2 linked regions of the Homo sapiens genome follow. The protein of the gene in region 1 interacts with the protein of each later gene in a pairwise test. Each region holds a gene or a part of one and is shown in the gene's direction. Other genes may lie near its edges. The genes, in order: FERMT3 and EXOSC10.

What was found.
Region 2: the proteins of FERMT3 (region 1) and EXOSC10 interact in a two-hybrid assay, tested with the Homo sapiens proteins (one large-scale study listed by BioGRID and IntAct).

The regions. Positions count from the first base shown.
Region 1 is NC_000011.10:64,209,532-64,213,341, forward strand, and holds part of FERMT3 (fermitin family homolog 3 short isoform), read left to right. Parts: intron 1-1,079; coding exon 1,080-1,313; intron 1,314-1,520; coding exon 1,521-1,640; intron 1,641-1,743; coding exon 1,744-1,912; intron 1,913-2,113; coding exon 2,114-2,216; intron 2,217-3,810. UniProt on the Homo sapiens protein: Plays a central role in cell adhesion in hematopoietic cells. Acts by activating the integrin beta-1-3 (ITGB1, ITGB2 and ITGB3). Required for integrin-mediated platelet adhesion and leukocyte adhesion to endothelial cells.
Region 2 is NC_000001.11:11,072,071-11,075,880, reverse strand, and holds part of EXOSC10 (exosome complex component 10), read left to right. Parts: intron 1-1,554; coding exon 1,555-1,650; intron 1,651-1,872; coding exon 1,873-1,947; intron 1,948-3,709; coding exon 3,710-3,794; intron 3,795-3,810. UniProt on the Homo sapiens protein: Catalytic component of the RNA exosome complex which has 3'->5' exoribonuclease activity and participates in a multitude of cellular RNA processing and degradation events.

The DNA.
Region 1 (3,810 bases):
GGCCAGAGAGGACAGGAGAAGAGCAAGGAGCCAAGACAAGGGGATGCGGCGGCACACAGCCAGAGTCCCACTGGGGTGCCCAGGAGGGAAGGGCCCAGCCTGGGAGGGGAAGTGCCGGAGGACGAGCGCTTCTCTTGGTTTGGCAGCAGTGGTGATGCCCGGCATGTGCAGCAGTGGGGTTGGGGGCTGGCTGAGGTGGGTGGGATGCAGTGGGAATCAGAAAACTCACCGGGAGGACCTGGGAGGAACTCAGGAAACAGGGCTTTGCAAACTCTCAAGGGCTGTGTGCCCAGAGCAGCTTTCCGGCAGCCTTTTTCCTATGCTCTCTCCCACCTGTTCATGCTCCTGGAGGGAGGAGGCGGGGAGACCTGTGCCTTCCATTACTGTAACTCCAGTTCCCAGCTGGCTGACAAGGGACAGACGCACATCTCTAATTCAATGCTCACTCATGGATCGTCATGTGCGTGCACAAGTTTGCTGCAAACCCTGCAGCTACCACATGGGAGGCCTTGTTCCGTGTCCCAGTTTGTAAGATCGTTATTGTATCTTACAGGGAAACTGAGGCCCAGTGAGGTTAAGTGGCTTGTCCAAGGTCACACAGCTAATAGCTAAAAATATTGAGTGCTCACTGCTCCAGGCCAGGCACAGGTCCAGGCCCTGAGGACATACAACGGTGAGACAGACGTAGTCTCTGCCTCCAGGAGCTCCCCAGAATGCAAGACAGAGGCTGTTAAACCGTGGATTATGGGAGGACAGAGGGGGCGTCATGTGGAGGGAGCCCAGTGGGCTGGAATGCAAGAGATGGGGCGCTAAGATTGGGGCACTCAGATGCTGGGTTGGAGAGCTCCCCTGGGAAGCGATATAGAAGCCAAGCCTAGAAGGCCAAATCAGGGGCTGCCTGCAGAGAGCCCTGCTGCTGTTACCATGGGGTAGACCCCAGGCCCGCCCAGGCTGCCCCACTCTTGGCTTAGGCAGGGCAGGGGAGTGGTCGCCCCAGGCTTCTGAATCCTGGGGTTGTGCTGGGTGTTGGGGGCACCAGGGAGGAAGGTTGGACCCAGATGTGCCCCCGTGCCCCACAGATCGCAAGCAGGACTGGTCAGACCATGCTATTTGGTGGGAACAGAAGAGGCAGTGGCTGCTGCAGACCCACTGGACACTGGACAAGTACGGGATCCTGGCCGACGCACGCCTCTTCTTTGGGCCCCAGCACCGGCCCGTCATCCTTCGGTTGCCCAACCGCCGCGCACTGCGCCTCCGTGCCAGCTTCTCCCAGCCCCTCTTCCAGGCTGTGGCTGCCATCTGCCGCCTCCTCAGTAAGTTGCCCGGCTGATTCCCCTGGCCCACGAGGGTGATGCAAAGAGGCAGGTTCCCCCGTTTCCAGGCCCAGCTCTGTTGACGCTGTCCTTGCTGTCTGGGTTGCCACCCTGCCTGCAGGGCTGTGACCCGCCCCAAGCACCCATGGGTGAGGTGGGGAGGCTGCAGCAGGACCTAGTCCCCGCTGAGACCCTAGCTCCCCTCAGGCATCCGGCACCCCGAGGAGCTGTCCCTGCTCCGGGCTCCTGAGAAGAAGGAGAAGAAGAAGAAAGAGAAGGAGCCAGAGGAAGAGCTCTATGACTTGAGCAAGGTTGTCTTGGCTGGGGGTGAGTGCAAGTGGGGGTGGGCCTGGGGGGTTGGGGGCAGGGGCCGGCCCGTGAGTCCCAGCCCTGGGGGACAGGCCTGGTTGACTCCCAACCTGCACTCCAGGCGTGGCACCTGCACTGTTCCGGGGGATGCCAGCTCACTTCTCGGACAGCGCCCAGACTGAGGCCTGCTACCACATGCTGAGCCGGCCCCAGCCGCCACCCGACCCCCTCCTGCTCCAGCGTCTGCCACGGCCCAGCTCCCTGTCAGACAAGACCCAGCTCCACAGCAGGTGCACCCAGGAGCCACGCCCCCTGTGTCAGGGCTCCCCCACCCAGGATCCACCCCCTGTCCCGTGTCTGTGCCCACCCCAGATCCACACTTCGTTTCCAGGCCTTTTCTCTGTGTGTGCTTGTCCCCCCAGCCCAGCCCCCCTCCCCACCCCACGGCCGTACCTGGCGCAGCCCTGACTGCTGCTTCTGCCGCGGCCCAGGTGGCTGGACTCGTCGCGGTGTCTCATGCAGCAGGGCATCAAGGCCGGGGACGCACTCTGGCTGCGCTTCAAGTACTACAGCTTCTTCGATTTGGATCCCAAGGTGGGTCGGGGCAGGGAGAAAGCGGGCCTCAGGTCCATGAGATGTGGAGACCTAGGGCCTGGGGTATGGGCTCTGGGATGTTAGTGACTTGTAGTGGCCTGTCCGTCTGCCCGTTTGTCCATCCACACCTTTGTTTACTGACCCCACAAACACCCACTGAAACTCATCTACTCACCTCAGCATCAGGCCAGGTCCTGGGCCCCGGGCAGATGCTGAAGCGGATGAAGACCAGTAAGTCTCAGTGCCTGTTTCCCAGGGAGCTGTCAGGGAGGAAGCTAAGACCCACAGATCCTCATAGACAGTGTGTGTGTGGGTGCCCCTGAGAAGTCTGGGGCTCAGGTGGGAGAGGCCCAAGCCTGGGAGCTCTGGGAAGGCTTCCTGGAGGGGGCACCATTAGGGACTGCAGGACCTGGGGGTGGGTGAGGAAGGAAGCTTTGCAGGGTGGCCCCTCTGTGCCCTGTTCACTCTTCCTCCCTTCCTCCATTGGCAACCAACATGCTCCAGGCAAAATGCTCCATGCAATGTGCTTCGCGCACATCTCAAAAACTTCCCAGAAGTCCACAGGTTGCTCTTTCTACCTGTAGGCCCCACCTCTCTGCCCCCTTTCTCTGCAAAACATCGTAGTTGTCTGAACGCTTGCTCCGCAGAATCCCACTTCTTGCTTCCAAGCTTTCTCTGGGTGCTGTTCGACTCCCTCTCACTCCTTGGCCATGGCTATTCTATATATTTTGACACCATCCACACGTGAGAAGTGCACCTGCTGAGGTGGCCACGTCTCCAGGCTATCTGTTCCCTGGCCATGTCCCACCCGCTTCTTACTTGACCACTTACTTGCAGCATAGACACCACCCCGACCACTCCTCCAGAATATCTTCCTCCTGAAGCCTCCTGTACACTTGCTTGGGGGGTGGCCTCTCCCCAAGCCACTCTGCCAGGCTCTGTGATGTTCCCTCCTCCTCTCCATGGCCTCTCGGTGTTGGTGAGCCCCAGGCTCTGCCCCAGGCTCTGCTCTGGGCCTCTGCTCTCTCCTCTCCTTCTCTCAGTCATCTCCAGTCTTGTGGATTTCAATACCATCTCCACACTCTCTCCCAGCTGATCATCTCCAGCTCAGATGTCTCTCTCCTAAGCTTTATTTATTTATATATTTATTTATTTTTATTTTTTGAGACACAGTCTTGCTCTGTTGTCCAGACTGGAGGGCAGTAGTGTTATCCCGGCTAACTGCAGCCTGGACCTCCCAGGGTCATGTGATCCTTAAGCCTCAGCTCCCCAAGTAGCTGGGACGATAGGCGTGTACTATACCTGGCTAATTTTTTTTTTTTTTTTGACATGGAGTCTTGCTCTGTTGCCCAAGCTAGAGTGCAGTGGTGCAATCTCGGCTCACTGCAACCTCTTCCTCCTGGGTTCAAGCAATTCTCCTGGGATTACAGGTGTGGGCCTGGCTAATTTTTGTATTTTTTTAGTAGAGATGGAGTTTCACCATATTGGTCAGGCTGGTCTCGAACTCCTGACCTCAGGTGATCCACCTGCCTCAGCCTCCCAAAGTGCTGGGGTTATAGGAGTGTATTTTTTTAGTAGAGATGGAGTTTCACCA
Region 2 (3,810 bases), on another chromosome or scaffold:
TTTTTTTTTTTTTTTTTTTTTTTTTTTGTGACAGGATCTCATCCTGTCACCCAGGTGGGAGTGCAGTGGCACCATCCTGGCTCACTGCAACCTCTGCCTCCTGGGCTCAAGCAATCCCTCTGCCCCAGCCTTCTCTCGAGTAGCTGGGACTACAGGTGTATGCCACCATGCCCAGCCAATTTTTGTATGTTTTGTAGAGGTGGGGTTTCACCATGTCGCCCAGGCTTCACTTTGGTTTTTAACTTAATTACATAAATCTAGATTGGGCCTTGCTTTAGCAATTAATGAGAAAATACTAGGCGCTTTAGCTGACCTCAGAGCTAATTTGAGTCATGAAGATGATTTAGCAGCTAAGCGTGTTAGCATGAGCTCTGGGCTGCTTTGATACGGAAGTGCTGTTTGGTGTAAAGGAGGCTGTGGTCTCCCTGCACTCTTGTGTTGCAAGGGCGCATAATTACAGATGAAGCAAAAGGATAGCACATATTTATGAACCCAGTTGGAAGCAGCATTTTGTTGCATAATTTCAATGATTCCCTATAAAGATATGTAATACTAAATTTCAGGCCTGGCGTGGTGGCTCACACCTGTAATCCCAGCACTTTTGGAGGGCAAGGCGGGCATATCACCTGAGGTCAGGAGTTTGAGACCAGCCTGGCCAACATGGTGAAACCCTGTCTTTAATTAGCCGGGCATTGTGGCGCACGCTTGTAATCCCAGCTACTCGTGAGGCTGAGGCAGGAGAATCACTTGAATCCAGGAGGCGGAGGTTGCAGTGAGCAGAGATGGCACCACTGCACTCCAACCTGGGCAACAGAGCAAGACTCCACTCAAAAAAATAATACATACATACATAAAATAAATTTCAGGCATCAATTAAGACCTCATGTTCTAGAGCCAGACCATGGTGGGTTTAGATCCTTGGTCTGCTTGTATTCACTGCAAGCCTCTGAAAGACTGTCACAACCTCTGTAGGCCTCAGTTTCCTCCTCTGTAAGATGGTGAGAGTAATACCACCTCATAGGCTATGAGGACATGCTGAGAATTCACTGATCCAGCACATTGATATTGAAATGCTACTGTGTGCTGTTGCAGACACAACACCTTATACATAAGAGAGTGTATGAAAAATTAGCCTTAGCCATTGGTATTAATATCACTGTTACTGGCCGGGTGCGTGCGGTGGCTCACACCTGTAATCCCAGCACTTTGGGAAGCCAAGGCGGGTGGACCACTTGAGGTCAGGAGTTCAAGACCAGCCTGGCCAATATGGTGAAACCTGGTCTCTGCTAAAAATACAAAAATTAGCTGGGCATGGTGGCACGTGCCTGTAATCCCAGCTACTCAGGAGGCTGAGGCAGGAGAATCGCTTGAACACAGGAGGTGGAGGTTGCAGTGAGCAGAGATCACACCACTGTACTCCAGCCTGGGCAAAAGAGCGAGACTCTGTCTCCAGAAAAAAAAAAAAAATCACTGTTAACTGTTGCTCTCTTGCTTGCATCTTGATGTCACAGATGATCATGGTCATTAGTGATCGTTTTTTGTCTGTCCCTGCAGGAACCTAGTGCTGAAGACAGTAAAAAGGGTCCATTGACAGTTGCACAGAAAAAAGCCCAGAACATCATGGAGTCCTTTGAAAATCCATTTAGGATGGTGAGTAGTAGTTTTGTCAGGGCTGACAGGATATGCAGAGATGCCTACAGCTGTACATGCTTTTACCTGGGAAGGAAGCCTCTGAAGCCAGTGTGTCGGCTGCCCTGGTGTCCTGGCAAAGACGCTGACAAGGCACCAGCAACCCCCCATCTGAGCGCTTCTGCCCCGTGGCTCTAGATTCCGTTCCCGGCAGCGTTTCACACAGCCATTTCCTTCCTCCAGTTTCTGCCCTCACTGGGACACCGTGCTCCCGTCTCTCAGGCAGCGAAGTTCGATCCATCAACCAAAATCTATGAAGTAAGTGGACTTGTCACCTGTTCTAAAAGAGACTTTTTTTTTTTTTTTTTTTTTTTGAGATGGAGTCTCGCTTTGTCACCCAGGCTGGAGTGCAGAGGCACAATCTTGACTCACTGCAACCTCCACCTCCCAGGTTCAAGCAGTTCTGCCTCAGCCTCCCAAGTAGCTGGGATTACAGGCACCTGCTGTCATGCCCGGCTAATTTTTGTAGAGATGGGGTTTCACCATGTTGACCAGGCTGGTCTCGAACTCCTGACCTCAGGTGATCCACCCGCCTTGGCCTCCCAAAGTGCTGGGACTACAGACGTGAGCTACTGCGCCTGGCCCTAAAAGAGACTTTCTAAGAAAAGGGGATTTCTTAATTATTCATACCAGGTTTCTGTTTTAGACAAGCCTATCTCATCTGTGAATCCCGTGAAAATGAATGCAAAAGCCCTTTATTTTCTAGCATTGTTTCTAGGGAAAGGGTCCAGAACTTCAGTGAGATTCTTAAAAGCACTTGGGCTGGGCATGGTGGCTCACGCCTGTAATCCCAGCACTTTGAGAGGCCGAGGCGGGCGGATCATGAGGTCAGGAGATCGAAACCATCCTGGCTAACATGGTGAAACCCCGTCTCTACTAAAAATACAAAAAATTAGCCAGGCGTCGTGGCAGGCGCCTGTAGTCCCAGCTACTCGGGGGGCTGAGGCAGGAGAATCGCTTGAACCTGGGGGGCGGAGCTTGCAGTGAGCCGAGGTTGCGCCACTGCGCTCCAACCTGCGCGACAGAGCGAACTCTAGCCAAAAAAGAAAAAGAAAAGCACTTGGAAACTTTGTAAGAAACAAATCTTCATTTGCGGTTTTTAAATTGAGGTTTAATCTATATGTAGTAAAGTACACAAATATTAAATATACAGCTTGATGCATTTTTATAGATGTCTGTTACTTTAAGGCTCTTAAAGGTGACAGCTTTAATTTTAAAACACTCTATCTTACTTATCTGGCTTGTTTTTACCAGCATTATGAGTAAGAATGAGAGCACACCTCCCCTAGACCCTCTTGAGATGTTCCCCAGAGCCAGAACGTGAACTGTTGTTCGCAGCCTCCTTCCTCCCTTTAGGAAGCGTCTGCTCTGATGACATGGGCGACTGGCTTCCTCTGTGTGGCAGCAGAGCTCTTTTGTTAGGCAAAACCGAGAGGTCCCCCAGCCCCGTTCCTGTCCCTGAGTTAGCTTGCTATTTTTGGAAATGGGGAATCAGGTGGGGCTTCTGCCTTCTCTCCTCTTTTCCCCCCACGGGTTATGTCACACTGAACAACTGCACGTCCTGTGTGTTATGCCCAGTGTCACCTCCATGTGTTGTAACGCCATAGGTCCGTGGGGTGTCATAAAGAAACACAGCAGACTTGCGGAAGCCCAGCCTTGAGTCTGCTTCTGTCATTTACTGACCATGTCCCTTGGACAAGTTATTTACTCTCCCGGAGTCTGTTTGCTCATCTCTAAAGAGAGGGTGATGACAGTACCTTTTTCCCAGGGTTACAGAGGGATTGAATGAGATGATGGATGGCCCAGTGCCTGGAGGACAGTAGCACTTTGTCCTTAATAGGGATTTTAGCAATAAAGCCAGCATGAAATTTATTTTTCATGCCCTTAGATTTGAAAATTTATGACTTAGAATGTGTGTACTTCTTAGGTTAACCTGCCCTTCGTCACCTCATGAAAAGTAAGACAGACTTAGGTGGCTGACTTTGGAGGGTTTTTTTTGTTATATTTGCTTTCATTATAGATCAGCAACCGCTGGAAGCTGGCCCAGGTACAAGTACAAAAAGACTCTAAAGAAGCTGTCAAGAAGAAGGCAGCTGAGCAAACAGGTAACACTCACTTCCT